2 separate regions of the Homo sapiens genome follow, and region 1 is linked to region 2. Evidence: fine-mapped expression QTL. Tissue or cell type: whole blood. Region 2 holds a variant in brackets; the other region holds the start of a gene. All regions are shown on one strand. Distances are between the middles of the regions.

Region 1 (8,100 bases), 25 kb before region 2:
CCCATCCAGGGAACCCTGGGTGACATCTAGGACACATGTGGCTGTCGCGGTTGCAGATGCTCCTGGCGTGGAGTGGGTGGAGGCCAGGGATCCTGCTTAGTACCCTGCAGTGACCAGGACGGCCCCAGCAGAGAACGATCAGCCCGGAATAGAGATGATACTGCTGTTAAAAATCCCCCTGCCCGGCCAGGCTTGGTGGCTCACGCCTGTAATCCCAGCACTTTGGGAGGCCGAGACAGGCAGATCACGAGGTCAGGAGTTTGAGACCAGCCTGAACAATATGGTGAAACCCCATCTGTACCAAAAATACAAAAATTAGCTGGGCGTGGTGGCACGCATGCCTGTAATCCCAGCTACTCAGGAGGCTGAGGCAGGAGAATTGCTTGAACCCGGGAGGTGGAGGTTGCAGTGAGCCAAGATCGCGCCACTGCACTCCAGCCTGGGCGACAGAACGAGACTCCATCTCAAAGAGAAAAAAAAAAAATCCCCCTGCCCTAGAGTGGAGACACCATGCACAGATCAGCCTGTACAAACCCCTGGGTGTTCACAAAAGGGGAAGTCCAGGACCACCCACGCACTGCTCAACTCCTGCCATGCCAGAGGGGAAAGGTGAGGTATCGGGGGGTTTTCGGGAGGAGTCCCTTCTTCTGTCTGCTTCTTCCACACCCCACACCCAGTGGGGGGAACAAGCAGGCCTCCATTCATGAACTCAACAAGAAAGTCAGCCTGGCGTGTGGTCGTGCCAGACCCACAGGTGCTACGGGCGAGTCATATGTGGCCCGGCCACTCACACCAGGGCCTCTCTGAGAAACGGGTAAATGGAGCCTGAAAACAAGAATGGCAGGCGGGGGCTCCTGGCAGCGAGAGCAGCTGCGGGAAGGGCGACTATGTGAAGTCAGTGCGGCTCGGCACAGAGAAGGTGGCAAAACCACCTGGAAACACCTAACCGTGCAGGGCCCAGGGGGCCAGCAAACAGTTCTGCAGAGGGTCCAGGGGGCCAGCAAACAGTTCTGCAGAGGACCCAGGGGACCAGCAAACAGTTCTGCAGAGGACCCAGGGGGCCAACAAACAGTTCTGCAAAGGGCCAAGGATTTTCAGCTTTGTGGGCCACATATGGTTTCTGTCTCATCCAAAAATCATCTTCAGTTCCAGGGGTGTACAAAAATAGGCAGGCCTGGCCAGGTACGGTGGCTCACGCCTGTAATCCCAGCACTTTGGGAGGCCAAGGCAGGCGGATCACTTGAGGTCAGGAGTTCGAGACCAGCCTGGACAACATGGTGAAACCCCGTCTCTACTAAAAATACAAAAATTAGCCAGGTGTGGTGGTGCGGGCTTGTAATCCTAGCTACTCTGGAGGCCGAGACAGGAAAATCGCTTGAACCCAGGAGCCAGAGGTTGCAGTGAACTGAGATTGCACCACTGCACTCTAGCCTAGGCGACAAAGCAAGACTCCATCTTGGCCGGATGCTGTGGCTTGTGCCTGTAATCCCAACACTTTGGGAGGCCAAGGCGGGTGGATCACCTGAGGCTAGGAGTTCAAGACCAGTGTGGCCAGCATGGAGAAACCCCGTCTCTACTAAAAATACAAAAATTAGCTGGGTGTGGTGGCAGGCACCTGTAATCCTAGCTGCTCAGGAGGCTGAGGCAGGAGAACCGCTTGGACCTGGGAGGTGGAGGGTGCAGTGAGCTGAGATCGTAGCACTGCACTCCAGCCTGGGCAACAAGAGTGAAACTCCGTCTCAAAAAAAATAGGCAGGCTGGAGTTTGCCAACTCCTGGTGTAGATGACAATGAAGGCTTTGAACTTCAATCCTGAGTGCAAGGTGGAGCCCTGGAAAGGGACAGGAAGGGGATGGGACAGTGGCACTAACAATCAGATGTGCATTTTTACAAAGGCTGGGGCAGGCACAACAAGCTAGCTCAGAACGCAGAAGCTGAAGTCAGATGGCCTGGGTGCGGACCCCACCTCTGCCAGTTGCTAGTTCTGGGATTCTGGCAAGAAACATTAACTCTCAGGCTTCCCACCTGCAAAACGGGAACAATTCAGGGTGCAGAGAACAAGAACTGTCTAAGAATTCAGTGAGGTATGAAGGCAAAACATCTTGTATCCTGAATACCACCAGAAAGTTTTCAAGAGGTAGCTGTTATTACAGACCATGCTCTCCTGTCCAAAAAGTCTTGGGGCCGGGGACATTTTAACATTCAGAATTTCCCCCCATTGTAGAACAGTATTAATAGAGTCCAAGTGCCATGTATTCCAAATCACTAGGGAGGCTGAGGCAGCACTCCGAAATCAAATTACTCTTTCTGCAGTGAGATGCAGGAATACGCACCAGGGTGTCTCTCTGTCTGCACTGTGGCCATTGGGGCCGGATCGTTTTCTGGGGTGGAGCTGTCCTGGGCACTGCAGGGTGCTGAGCAGCGTCCCCGGCCTCCATCCATTCCATACCAGGAGCGCCCCCCAACTGTGACAACCACAAATGTCCCCAGACACCGTCCAGTGTCCCCAGAGGTAGCACAATCACCCCAGCTGAGAATCAATGATATTCGCTAAGTGGGAAAAAGAAAGGCTCTCAGTCGGTCAGTTGAGGTCATTTTCTGGCCAAATGACTTTGCTGTAAACTTAAGGCAAACCTTTCAGTTTACAGAGTATTTAGGATTTTAGAACTGCAAAAAAGGGACTGTGGATCTACATTAAACCGTGGGGTAAAGAAGAGCTTCAGGGGCTCAGAAAGGATGGAGATGGATGGGAACTGGAACTGTCAGAAAATTCTCCTGCAGGAGTTAGGATTTGAAAAACTTGTGGACGTCAGTTCATCCTGTAAATATTTACTGATTGTGCCAAGGATCCAGTAGCAAACAAGGCAGACAACATTCCTTCCTTCCCAAGGCCTGAATATCCCTGACTATCATTATTACAATTATCACCCTCATCGCAATGGGCTGGACAAAGAGCTGGGGGAGTGTGGCTGGGCAAGAGAAAAGCCAAGGATCAGGCAAGGAGTTGCTTCAACAACCTGAGTGACCTTCTAAAACCCAGGCCGGGCACGGTGGCTCATGCCTGTAATCCCAGCACTTTCGGAGGTCGAAGCAGACGGATCACTTGAGGTCAGAAGTTCGAGACCACCCTGGCCAAGATGGTGAAACCCCATCTCTACTAATAATACAAAAATTAGCCAGGTGTGACGGGCGTGGTGACTCACGCCTGTAATCCCAGCACTTTGGGAGGCCGAGGCGGGTGGATCACGAGGTCAGGAGATGGAGATCATCCTGGCTAGCACCGTCTCTACTAAAAATACAAAAAAAATTAGCTGGGCGTGGTGGCAGGCGCCTGTAGTCCCAGCTACTCAGGAGGCTGAGGCAGGAGAATGGCGTGAACCTGGGAGGCGGAGCTTGCAGTGAGCCGAGATCGCGCCACTGCACTCCAGCCTGGGTGACGGACCAAGACTCTATCTCCAAAAAAAAAAAAAAATTAGCCAGGTGTGGTGGTGGGCGCCTGAAATCCCAGCTGCTTGGGAGGCTGAAGCAGCATAGCTTGAACCCGGGAGGCGGAGGTTGCGGTGAGCCTGTGTGAGCAGAGATTGCACCACTACACCCCAGCCTGGGAGACACAGACTGTCTCAAAAAATAAACCAACAAATAAATAAATAAACAGTACACAGGTCACATCGCCCCTTTGCCTCTAAATTAAAAGGGTCTTGGCTGGGTACAGTGGCTCATGTCTGTAATCCCAGCACTTTGGGAGGCCGAGGCAGGTGGATTGCTTGAACCCAGGACTTCAAGACCAGCCTGGGCAACATGGCGAAACCTCGTTTCTACAAAAAATTAGCCAAGTGTGGTGGTGCAGGCCTGTAGTCCCAGTTACTCAGGTGGCTGAGGCGGGAGGATTGACTGAGTCCAAGAGTTCGAGGCTGCAGGGAGTCGTGATCGCACCACTGCACTCCCGCTTGGGAGACAAAGTAAATAAATAACAAAATTAAAAGGTCCCCTCGTTACGTTCCAGCCAAACTGACTTTCTGCTCTCCAAACACGTTCCCTCCTCCCGGGACGCCTCCTTCCCCGGTCTTGGCAGGACACTTGCTTCTCCCAATCAAGCAAGTCGACGCTCACCTCTTCAGAAAAGCCCCCCAGGAACCACCCTCTCTCTAAAAACGTGTCCCTGGGACTGCCCCGTTCGTGTTTATCTGCACCAGAGCACCGATCCCTCCCTATCTTCGATCCTCTCTTATTTAATTTTTGAATGTCTGTCTGTGGCTCTAGAATTCCAGGAAAACGGGACTGGAGTCGTTAAATCACGGCCTCCCCAGGGTCCGCCACGGGGCCCGACCCATCCGGAAGGGAAGCGCCATCAACTTTGCAGAATGAATGAAGCGCTGGAAAAGCTGGTTCATTCATTCGGCAAACGAGAGAGCAGGGTCGTCCACCTCCCCCGCTGCCCCTCCAGCCCGGCCGAGGGTGGCTCGGGGGTCGCTTCGCTCCAGCCTTAGGCCCAAGTCGCGACCCCGGGAGGAGCGAGGGTGCAGGGGACGCCCGGGTCCGGCGAGCGGGGTAGTCGGTACCTGCGGGGGGCTTCATGGCGGGTGGGTCTGCGCCTGCGGCTCCCTCCCTCCTTCCACCTGCTACGCGTCCAGCCACCTCGGCCACTGAGGCCGCCTGCCTCGGCCCAACCGCCGCCACCGCCGCCACGGCCGCCTGAGGACCAAGGGGCCCGCCGCCCGCGCTCCCGGGGCATGCTGGGGCGGCGCGCGCACAGGGAGGGCAGGACGCACGCGCCCCTGAGCCCCGCCCACAGCTAAAGGAGGAGGGCCGGGAGTGCGCTGGAGCCCTCTGCGCACTCGCCGTAACCCTCCCGGTCCGTTATTGGTCTCGGCGGTGCGTGGGCGGAGCCTCTTGCTCTACCATTCCAGAGCCGCTGGGGTGGCTAGGACGGACGGTTTCCTTGGAAACCGCGCACGCCGCTGACGCCTCTGAGCCTCTGCGCGGCTCATTGCGCTGAGACTTCGCTTGGGCTTCAGGCTACCGCGTTAATGTGTACTTGCCTCGCTTCTTATAGCTGTGTGTTGGGCCAGTGTTATTATTGATCGCTTACTGTATATCCCAGGCCCACTTTCCAGCATCTGAATCCGACGAATCAATTAAATTAACCAGAAGTTTTGGTGCTTTGGTTGTTTTTGAGACGGAGTCTCGCTCTGTCGCCCAGGCTGGAGTGCAGTAGCAGCAATCTCGGCTCACTGCAACCTCCGCCTCCCTGGTTCAAGTAATTTTCCTGCCTCAGCCTTTCCAGGAGCTGGGACTACAGGCGCCAGCCCCCACCCCGGCTAATTTTTGTATTTTTAGTAAAGAGGGGGTTTCACCATGTTGGCCAGGATGGTCTTGATCTCTTGACCTCGTGATCCGCCCGCCTCGGCCTCCCAAAGTGCTGGGATTACAGGTGTGAGCCACCGCGCCGGGCCAAGTTTTTTTTTTTTTTTTTTTTTTTGTCAGAAACAAAAGCAAGTAAACGGATTCATGTCAAATAACAGGTGTTGTGGAACAGTGCAGTAGCCTGACCTACATGCAGTGTTGTGGGTTAAAACAAAAAACATCTTGAACCATCTGTCTTGAACTGTTAGGGCACCCAGAAAAAACAATGTACTACAATTAAACTGGCAAAAACCAAAACAACCGACCTCCTTTCTTCCCTTTTTTTGTTTTTGTTTTGTTTTCTTTTGCTTTGGAGGGGCTGGAGGGAGTCTCGCTCAGTCGCCCAGGCTGGAGTGCAATGGCGCGATCTCGGCTCGCTGCAACCTCTGCCTCTCGGGTTCAAGCGATTCTCCTGTCTCAGCGTCCCGAGTAGCTGGGACTACAAATGCCCGCACCACGCCCGGCTAATTTTTGCATTTTTAGTAGATACAGGGTTTCACCGTGTTGGCCAGGCTGGTCTCGAACTCCTGACATCAAGTGATCTGCCCCCTGGCCTCCCAAAGTGCTGGGATTACAGGCGTGAGCCACCACGGCCGGCCTCACCTCCTTTATTTCTGCAAAAGAAATTAAAATAATCCACGCCATTAATCGTGCATGTATTTTGAGTAGGACGAAAATGAATTGGGAGAACATTTCTGGCAACTGTAACTTAGATGGTGATCAGTTTTCTGTCGTCCTTGGAAATGTCTCATCACATGTCTTGAGCAACACCAAGATTAATTTTACATCGGCGTTCATTTTCGCTGTTCCCTGTGCCTGGGGTCCGTTTGGACTTTCCTATCCTTGAAATCCAAATGTAAAGGATGATCTTTCCTACCCATCCCATGCGACTTAGCTCCCAGTGACAATCACACTACCTTCATTTTTTTTTTCTTAGTGTTTGCTGTGAAATTTGTTTCTCTATTTATGTACTAGTTTATTAGTTTATAGTCCGTCTACCCCAATGCAAAATAATGAGAGTAGACACTTTGCTGGTTTTTATGGCTGCTTTGCAATAAATATTGAATGAATATTAGGCACCTGCTGTCTACAAATGGCTCTATACTCACAAACGTCTCACACTGCATGAAAGAATGCATTTGTGGGTGAGTAGATGGGTGGGTGAATAAATGAACAAAGATAGTAAGCGGGTAACACTGACTCCCATTCATTGCGCAGCTGTGACGCTCTGGAGTCCAGGTGTCCAAACGCGGCTGCACCACGTGGCCGGCCCAGCACCACGTGGTCAGCTCGGCGACCGGCTGGAGTCAGCCACTGTTCCACCGTGCACCGCTTCATTCCCGCTCTAGAGGGCAAACCAGACCCGATTTCCGGCCTCCATTAGGTCGCAGAGGTCAGTTGCCCTAACAACCAGCTGGTTCCCGCCTCTACGTTGCGTCACTTCCTTCCACGCCCGCCTCCATCATTAACGCGCCTGTGCAGAAGGGAAGCAACTCCGGGCGCCTTTCTTTTGCGCAGGCGTCGCGCCCTGGGGCCGGGGCCGGGCGGCACCGCGGTGCGCAAGCGCAACCGTCGGTGGGTCGGGGATCGGTCGCCTGAGAGGTGAGTGAGGGGCACTGCGCTGAGCCTGGTGGGTCTGGGGTCTGCGGCTCGGGGCCCACGGGGCCCCAAAGCTCGTAAGAGTTTGGGGATCGTGAGGCCAGGGTCACCGCGACCCGCGGGGTCCTGTGAGTAGGCGGTGCGGAGGGGAAACTGAGGCCGGGCGCCATCGGGCAGGCCCTTCGAGCCCTGATCTCCCTTCCCCAGGCCCCAGGTCCTGGAAATGCTGGTCCGCGGCCTGGTGGCGAGGACGGCGGGAGGGGAAGGCGCCCCGCATGTAGTGAGCGCTCGCTGGGTGTTCGCTGCCGTTCCGCTCTTATTAACCGCCTGGAAACGTCGTCCCTGTGACTCAGGGACCCCCGTTTGTGGGGACTGAAGTCGGAACTCTGGTTCCAGCGCCGCCAGTCCCTACCTGGGTGACCTTGCCCAGCCTCTTGGCTTCTCGGAGCCTCAGTTTTCCCCTCTGTAAAACGGGCGTTGTTCAAAAGTCCCTGCCTAGGAGAAGGAGAGCCGCAGGGTCCAGCGGAATCTGAGAACTCCAAAGAATTAGCAGGCGTTCGTCTTATATCATGTTTAGAGTCTTCTTCTGCATATCGTGCTAGAGGTGGGGGAAATCTGGGATTCAGGACCGTCCACCACCACCTCCCACCCGCTGTGTAAACCTGGGTGAGTCGCCTTCCCTCTCTGAGCAAACTGTTCCTTCTTTCGCAAACGAGTTGTAAAAGCAGATGCCTCGGAGGGTCATTATGAGGATAAACCCACATTCAATTATTTGATCAGGTGCCTGGAACTTGATAAGAGAGAGCTGGCTTGAGAATAGCTGTTTTTGTTATTAGGTGCCAGAAAATTGCAGTGTAGTGTGCCCTTCAGAGGTTGAATGATTGTCCCATTTTCTTTTGTTTCTGTCTCTGATTATTCCTTTTGTCTGCCTTTTCCCTCCCTTGACCAGTGGTTCTCAACCAGGAACAATTCTGTGCCCCAGGGATTCTTGGTGACATTTGTGCTTGTCATGATTTGGGGGACCCCCTGGTTTGGAGTTGGTGGAGGCCAGGGTTGCTGCTCGGCACCCTGCAGTACCCAGGACGGCCTCACCCCAGAA
Region 2 (8,100 bases):
CCGGTCTGTGTGGACACCGGGCCGGTGTTTTCCTCTCTCCCTGTAGGAAACGAGCAGATGAAAGTGGAAAACTTTGAAGCTGCCGTGCATTTCTACGGAAAAGCCATCGAGCTCAACCCAGCCAACGCCGTCTATTTCTGCAACAGGTACCAGCTCAGGGCCTGCCCAGGGCAGGGGCGGCCGGGTGCGGGGGCGTCCTCCGGGATGCTTAGCAGGGACCTGAGATGGGAGAGGCCTCTGCGCTGTAGATGAGGGATCCATTCACCGGTGGTCTCAGACCAGGAGCGAGCATCAGGTGACCAGCAACGGGGTCGGGGAGAGTCGATGCTGATTTAAAATCAGGTAGCACGCCCAGCACTCTGGGAGGCCATGGGGGAAAGATCACTTGAGGCTAGGAGTTCGGGACTAGCCTGGGCAACATATCAAGACCCCCGTCTCTACAGAAAATGTAAAAATTAGTCTGGGGGCCAGGCGCGGTGGCTCACGTCTGTAATTCCAGCACTTTGGGAGGCTGAGGCGGGGGGGATCACTTGAGGTTGAGAGTTCAAGACCAGCCTGGCTAACATGGTGAAACCCCGTCTTTACTAAAAATACAAAATTAGCCGGGTGTAGTGGTGGGCACCACCAGTTACTCAAGAGGCTGAGGTATGAGGATGGTTTGAACCTGGGAGGCAGAGGTTGCAGTGAGCCAAGATTGCGCCACTGCCCTCCATCTTGGGTGACAGGGAGACTCTGTCTCAAAAAAACCCCGAAAAAAACCACAAAAATTAGCTGGATGTGGTGGTGGGTGCCTGTAGTCCCAGCTACCTGGGAGGCTGAGGCAGGAAAATCACTTGAACCCGGGAGGCAGAGGTTGCAGTGAGCTGAGATCGTGTCACTGCACTCCAGCCTGGGCAGCAGAGCAAAACCCTGTTTCAAAAATAATAAATACATAAATACATACATAGAAAATCAGGTATCATGGCATTCCACGTGGATGTCAAGCCAAGAAAATAATCCAGTATGTGGAGGGTTGTGTTTTTTGAATGTGTGGTCTTGGATCTGCTTCAGGCTTACAGGACAGTTGCAGAGGCAGTGCAGGGTTCCTGGCCGCCTGTCATGGGGTAGTTTAGTCTCCACTCACTCTTCTCTGTACTTTGAAAAAATTGTAAAGAGAAACACTAAACACGAAAATGGTGAAGACGATTCAGACGCTGTAAGCCAAGAGCTTTGAGCTTTGACATTGGTCTGAGTTCTTTTTTTACTGATATGTAAATAATTTGTGAATGAAACTTGGGTATAAGTTCCCTACCCTCATTGCTCTTGTACAGCCATGGATCGGAACATTTTTTGCAAATAAAATTCAGAGTCGCAGTCCTGAGTGGCTGCTGGTGCTTTGAGCCCACATTTGTCTAAGAGCATCTCAGTGGCCACACCTCTCAGCTTTCCCCATCAGCCCCATTTTACAGATGGGGAAAACTGAGGCCGTTCCTCCAGGAAGTTGGAGAGGAACGCAGCTCTCAGGCTCCCCTCAAGGGCTGCCCGCTGGGCTCAGAGCCGCCAGTGAGGGACCTGCCCTGCCTTTTCTTCCCCAGAGCCGCAGCCTACAGCAAACTCGGCAACTACGCAGGCGCGGTGCAGGACTGTGAGCGGGCCATCTGCATTGACCCGGCCTACAGCAAGGCCTACGGCAGGATGGGGTGAGTGCCTGTCCACGGCCGCGCCTTTCCAGTCTCTCGGGACCCCTCCTCTCCTGCTCCTGCTTCCTCTCTTGTGTGGCTTTTTTCCCACCCACAACGAATTCTCCCACCCCGGTTCAGTTCAACTCTGACACTAGCTGTTCGGAGCCAACGTAGTCCCTACAGGTCACAGGCTCAGCCCCACAGACGCCCCGCATCAGGTGCCACCCGGAGATCCCTGGGCCCCTTGCTTCTCCCTGACTGGCTGTCACCTGGGGTTCCCATGGCTCCTACTCAGGCTCCATTGTTTGCTGGGGCGGCTCACAGAGCTCAGGGAAGCACCTGGTTTATGATGAAGGACACAGGACAGGTCCGAGAGTGAGGCCAGGAGGGTCCCCGGGGCAGGAGCCTGCGCCCCGTGCAGCCGGTGCCGCCCTCCCAGCATAAGCGTGCATTCGCCTGCTTCTCTGAATGCCCTTGCTCAGAGTTTGTGGGATTGGGTCTCCCCAGAGGCTGGGGAGGGGCCCTGTTCAACTGCCCAGTCTCCCCAGGACCCGCCTCCTCCTGGGCTCTGTAGGGGCCCTGAGTCACCTCACGAGTGAAGACTCACTCAGGTGGGGGTCAGGGGCTGCTTGTGGATGACGGGAGACATGTCTGTCGCTCAGAGGTTCCGAGGGTCCTTGGTGCCCTGTGCCGGGAAGCGGGGCCAAGACAACATCCACGCATTTCCTGTGACCCTGAGCTGGCCCGCTCCCTCCTCTCAGCCCGCTCTGGGCTTTGAGGCCCTGTGTGTGGCCCCATGGGGACTCCAGTTCTTGTGTGGCAGGGGTGTTCTCATGTCTGTCTCCCTCAGTCCTGCCCCTGGGCCCCTCGAAAGCCAGGTTTGTCTCCACTGAGCTGACAGCGGGCAGGGGGTGGCACCATCCGAGGTGGTTTGGGGGTTGCCAGGACCGCCGGGGACGAGGGCTTTGGCGGGGCCTCCTGGAGCTGGGCAGATGGGAACAGTCCATCCCCGGTGCTCTCCTCCAGCCTGGCGCTCTCCAGCCTCAACAAGCACGTGGAGGCCGTGGCTTACTACAAGAAGGCTCTGGAGCTGGACCCCGACAACGAGACATACAAGTCCAACCTCAAGATAGCGGAGCTGAAGCTGCGGGAGGCCCCCAGCCCCGTGAGTGCAGCGGGGGCGAGTGGCTCCAGAACGCCGAGCTGACTGTGTGGGTGGGGGACAGGTCCTCGGGCGCACCAGTGGCTCTAGGCTTAACCTGGGTGTCGTGAGGGTCCGGGGTTTGTTTCAGTTGGTGGTGAGATGCACAGGCGTGGAAGTGAGTGTCGTGAGAAGGTTCATGCCCCCAGACCCCTGGAAGCAGGAGGCCGGCCGCAGGGCTGCCCGCGGAGGCTGAGGGAGGGGCACAGAAAGGACCCTCGATGTGGGTTTTGTGGCGAGGCCGGGTGAGGAGGCTTCGGGTTGGCTGGTTGGAGCCATTTCATTAGACCCAGGCCTGGGGGCTGCCCCTGGTTGCCTGGTCCCTGGCCTGGGGGTGAGTGGGGCAGGTGGACTGTGGCCCTGGGGTGATGGGGGAGGTGCTGAGGGTGTGGGTTCTGGGTTAGTTTGTTTGTATTTCAAAGGTGCGTTTCTGGGTGAGTCATTTGCTTTCTCTGGGAATTGGCTACTCCAGGAGGGGGCGGCTCTGCCAGGCCAGCAAGGCCCCAAGGTGTCAAAGCGGCAGAATACAGGAAATCAACACGGGATGATAGACTGTGCCGTCCCCGGGCGGTCGCGCTGTACGGGGAATAAACACGGGATGATAGACTGTGCCGTCCCCGGGCGGTCGCGCTGTGCGGGGAATAAACACGGGATGATAGACTGTGCCGTCCCCGGGCGGTCGCGCTGTGCGGGGAATAAACACGGGATGATAGACTGTGCCGTCCCCGGGCGGTCGCGCTGTGCGGGGAATAAACACGGGATGACAGACTGTGCCGTCCCCGGGCGGTTGCGATGTGCTTCGTGCTGCCTGCCTCAAAGCACCCTCTGGCCGCAGGGTTGATAGAATGTCTGAGCCCCGTGGGGGGCCGTTGTTTCTGAGTTCCAGGGGGTTATTCACCGTGGCCTCTGGTCCAGGCCCCACTAACCAGGGCTGTTCTCATCCTCAGACGGGAGGCGTGGGCAGCTTCGACATCGCCGGCCTGCTGAACAACCCTGGCTTCATGAGCATGGTAACGGCCCGCCCCTCCTCCCTGTCCATGGTGTCTGCGCCACCCCCCAGGCCCGCATCTGCTGTGTCCGCTACTGGCCAGGGCTTCCTTGCCTTGGCACTGCTGGCTTCTGGAACCAGATGGGTCTTGTCTGTGGGGTCGTCCTGGGCACCGCAGGGCGCTGGCAGCACCCCTGGCCTCACCCGCCCCATGTCAGGAGCACCCCCACCCTCTGCTTCGACAATCAAAAGTGTCCCCAATGTTGATGTCCCAAGCAAGACCCATCAGTAGTGAGCACCAAAAGCTGGCTCTCCTGGCTGAGCCCAGGGAGGTCACACCCCCACCCCACCCTGGCGTGGGCTCCTCCTCGCAGTGCAGAGACACTGATCACAACACAGCAGCGTCTGCCTCCTAAGGTTCAGGCAAGGGAAGCAGAGCGCCGGGTGCGCCGGGCGCAGGTGGACCTCCCGATGCCCGGGCACTCATGCTTCCAAAGGGACGGCCTTTGGCAGGGAGTTCCTTGACTGGGATCCTCGGAGAGCCATCCCCCACACACACATGTTCATTTCCTGGGAGGTCTGTGTGCCCTGGGACCACTCTTCAGGCTCCCACAGCCTCAGGGTACAGGGACTCGCCTAAGGCTGTCGGGGAGAAAAGCCCTCAGTCTCACTGTCAGTCAGAAAAATGAGCCAGCTGGGCCAGGAGCCCTGCCCGGGTCGTGCCATTCAGCAGAGGCCACACCTCTTACTGTAGCCCTCGTCCGCTGGCCAAGCTGCCAGGGGAATATGTTCTCCCTCACCATGGGATGGAGGGTGACTGGGCCCCAGTCTTTCAAGGGGCCTCTCAGCTTGGCCATGTCACAGACGCCTTTTCCCTTCAGA[C/T]ATCTGGGGTTGGCAGAATAAGGCCCGCCGCTGGGTTTTGTTAATAAAGTTTTTTTTGGTTTTTTTTTTTTTTTTTTTTTTTGAGATGGAGTCTCGCTCTGTCGCCCAGGTTGGAGTGCAGTGGTGTGATCTCAGCTCACTGCAACCTCCGCCTCCCAGGTTCAAGCGATTCTCCTGCGTCAGCCTCCCGAGTAGCTGGGATTACAGGTGCCCACCACCATGCCTGGCTAATTTTGGTATTTTTTAATAGAAATGGGGTTTCACCATGTTTGCCAGGCTGGTCTCGAACTCCTGACCTTGTGATCCACCCGCCTCGGCCCCCCAAAGTGCTGGGATTACAGGTGTGAGCCACTACACCTGACCAATAAAGTTTTATTGGCACACAGCCATGCCCATTCATACACCTAGTGTCACTGGTGGCTTTCATGATACGGCGGCAGAGCTGAGTAGTTGCGTCAGGCACCCGTGTCTGAAAAGGCTGAGAGTATTTACACACTGGCCCTTTACACAGAGAGTTTGCCACACCTCTGAGCCACCTCCTTTCAACAGGTCCAAAGGAATAATCCCAAGTGGAAAGTTAACATGAGAAAGTGCCCAGTATAGTGCTATTTATTTATTTATTTATTTTTACTTCTTTTTTGAGACAGAGTCTCACTCTGTCACCCAGGCTGGAGTGCAGCGGTGTGATCTCGGCTCACTGCAACCTCCCCCTCCCAGGTTCAGGCGATTCTTGTGCCTCAGTTTCCCAAGTAGCTGGGACTACAGGCATGCACCACCACACCTGGCTAATTTCATATTTTTAGTAGAGACGGGGTTTCACCATGTTGGTTAGGCTGGTCTCGAACTCCTGACCTCAAGCGATCTGCCTGCCTCGGCCTCCTAAAGTGCTGGGATTCCAGGCGTGAACCACCGCGCCCAGCCACAGTGCTATTTATTGATAGAGCAAAACTGGAACCAAATATGCTAAATGAAATATGCTAAAGCAGACAGCAGCTAAAATAAAGAACCAAAACGCCTCCACACAGCAAAACCGCAGCAGCCAGTGAGAGAGCGCTGTGGCGCTGCGAGATCGCTCCTGAAGCAGGAACCCAAAACAGGATTTAAGTCACAATGTGGAGGTCACAGCTCGTGGGTGGGGGGGCGAAAATGTAGGGAAAAGGGTATGAAAGACCGAATGCCCGGCTCTTACTGTTGGTTGGCGTGCTGGAGTCCAGAACCAAGGCTGGTTAAGATGGAAAGTGTCTGATGAAAGAGAATGATGCGCTGGGAGCTTTGTCTTCCTGACAAATTTGTTCTGTTCTTCAGGCTTCGAACCTAATGAACAATCCCCAGATTCAGCAGCTGTAAGTGACAACCGGGTTTCTTCGGGTCTTGTTGTGGTTAAATTTCCTTTTATTGTGGGTAAATTCACTTAACATAAAACTAACCACTTTAAAGTGTGCAACTTAATGGCATTAAGGACTTTCACACTGTCATGCAACTGTCACCACTATCACACTGTCATGCAACTGTCACCACCATCACACTGTCATGCAACTGTCACCACCATTGAGCACCAACCCATCTTCATCACCTCCGAAAGAAGCCCCTTCCCCCTCAGCTGTCACTCCCCAACCCCTCTCCTATCCCCTGACAACCACGCATCCCCTTCCTGTCTCTGTGGATGGGCCTGTCCTGGACATTTCGTAGAAATGGGATCACACACTGCGTGAACTTTGGTGTCTGGCGTCTCTCACTGAGCGTGACGTCCTCAAGGTGCATGTGTGCTGGGGCCTGGGTCAGGGCCTCGCTCCTTTTCATGGCTGAGTAATATTCCAGTGTGGAGGGACCACGCTGTGCTGATCCACACATCTATCCATGGACATTTGGGCTGTTTCTACCTTTTGTCTGTTGTGAACGGTGCTGCTTGAGCACGGGTGTGCAATCGTCTGTGTGAATCCTGTTTTCGTTTCTCTTGGATATAAACTTCTGAGTGCACTCGCTGGCTCATAGGGTCACTCCCCAGTAAGCGCTGTGCGCACTGGGGAGCTGCTCACCTGTTTTCATGGTGAAATCTTTTTTTCTTTCTCCTTTTTTTTTTTTTGAGACAGAATCTTGCTCTGTCACCCAGGCTGGAGTGCAGTGGCAGAATCTTGGCTCACTGCAACCTCTGCCTCCCGGGATCAAGTGGGTCTTCCCAAGTAGCTGGAATTACAGGCATCCACCACCATGCCCGGCTGATTTTTGCATTTTTAGTAGAGATGGGGTTTCACCATGTTGGCCAGGCTGGTCTTGAACTCCTGACCTCAGGTGATCCACCCGCCTCAGCCTCCCAAAGTGCAGGGATGACAGGTGTGAGCCACCGCGGCTGGCCCACGGTCAAATCTTAAAGCATGGTTTCCCAGCCACAGCACCGTGGCCATTTGAGCTGGACCAGTTTCTGGAGCAGGGCCGTCCTGGGCACTGCAGGGTGCTGAGCACTGTCTCTAGCCTCCATCCACTCCATGCCAGGAGCACCCCCTGCCCCTGTCTTGGCGTAACCCAATCATGGCTGTTGCAAATGTCCGCTGCCATTGCAGGGGTCCTCTGGGGGCAGGATCACCCCCTGGCTGAGAACTACGCTCTTTAGGCCAAAGAAAGAGGGGTGTTCTGGGAAAGCAGGTGAAAGTCACAGGGTGGGTTTGGGCCCTGGAGGCCCACCAGGTGGTGAGAGAGAATCCTCTCCTGCAGGGGAAGGTGAAGGGCTGAGAGGGATTCTCTCCCGGGCCACTGCGAGGGCCTGCAGTGGGGGTGGCGGTCAGGCTGTCCCGGCTGCGAGTCACGCGCTCTCTCCTGCAGCATGTCCGGCATGATTTCGGGTGGCAACAACCCCTTGGGAACTCCCGGCACCAGCCCCTCGCAGAACGACCTGGCCAGCCTCATCCAGGCGTGAGTGGAACTGCTTCCAAGAGGACGGAGGACGTGGGCGGCGGGCAGGGCTCGCAGGCGGAAGGGAAGGAGGAGAGCGAAAGTGCTGCGTCCCCTGCTCCGAAGGGCCCAGCGTCCTCCAGCGAGGGGTCAGGCCTGTCTTTGGGGTGGAGGGCCCGAGGGGTCAGCTGGGGATGGACGGAGGCAGCAGGCAGCCTCCTGGCCCTGGCTGAGCCCCATGTGCCCTTCCCCGCAGGGGCCAGCAGTTTGCCCAGCAGATGCAGCAGCAGAACCCAGAGTTGATAGAGCAGCTCAGGAGCCAGATCCGGAGTCGGACGCCCAGCGCCAGCAACGACGACCAGCAGGAGTGACGCTGCGTGAGTGCATGGGGCCGGGGGCTGGGGGGTGGCCAGCAGGAGTGACACCACGTGAGTGCCTGGCAGTGAGGGCAGCCAGCAGGAGTGACGCCCGGGGGCTGTGGA

Evidence for each region. PIP is the estimated chance that this variant, and not a neighbour inherited with it, causes the effect.
Region 1: it holds the start of THOP1, and the variant in region 2 is fine-mapped to the expression of THOP1 in whole blood (INTERVAL, PIP above 0.99).

Annotation. Positions count from the first base shown.
Region 1 is chr19:2,782,137-2,790,236 of GRCh38, reverse strand. It overlaps THOP1 (thimet oligopeptidase 1), which reads right to left and starts at 4,734. Exons shown (of 13, transcript NM_003249.5): 1 at 4,559-4,734. The coding sequence starts at 4,574. It overlaps SGTA (small glutamine rich tetratricopeptide repeat co-chaperone alpha), which reads left to right and starts at 6,964. Exons shown (of 12, transcript NM_003021.4): 1 at 6,964-7,004. RefSeq lists enhancers at 475-764, 2,417-2,943, 2,944-3,470, 6,533-6,602, 8,099-8,100 and silencers at 4,448-4,907, 4,938-5,047, 6,993-7,042.
Region 2 is chr19:2,757,232-2,765,331 of GRCh38, reverse strand. It overlaps SGTA (small glutamine rich tetratricopeptide repeat co-chaperone alpha), which reads left to right. Exons shown (of 12, transcript NM_003021.4): 5 at 47-146; 6 at 1,575-1,679; 7 at 2,688-2,826; 8 at 3,810-3,872; 9 at 6,038-6,075; 10 at 7,550-7,639; 11 at 7,875-7,995. The coding sequence ends at 7,989. Among named protein-coding and RNA genes, the nearest start is that of SLC39A3, 21 kb to the right of the region's middle. The variant C/T (reference allele first, on the strand shown) is at 4,733.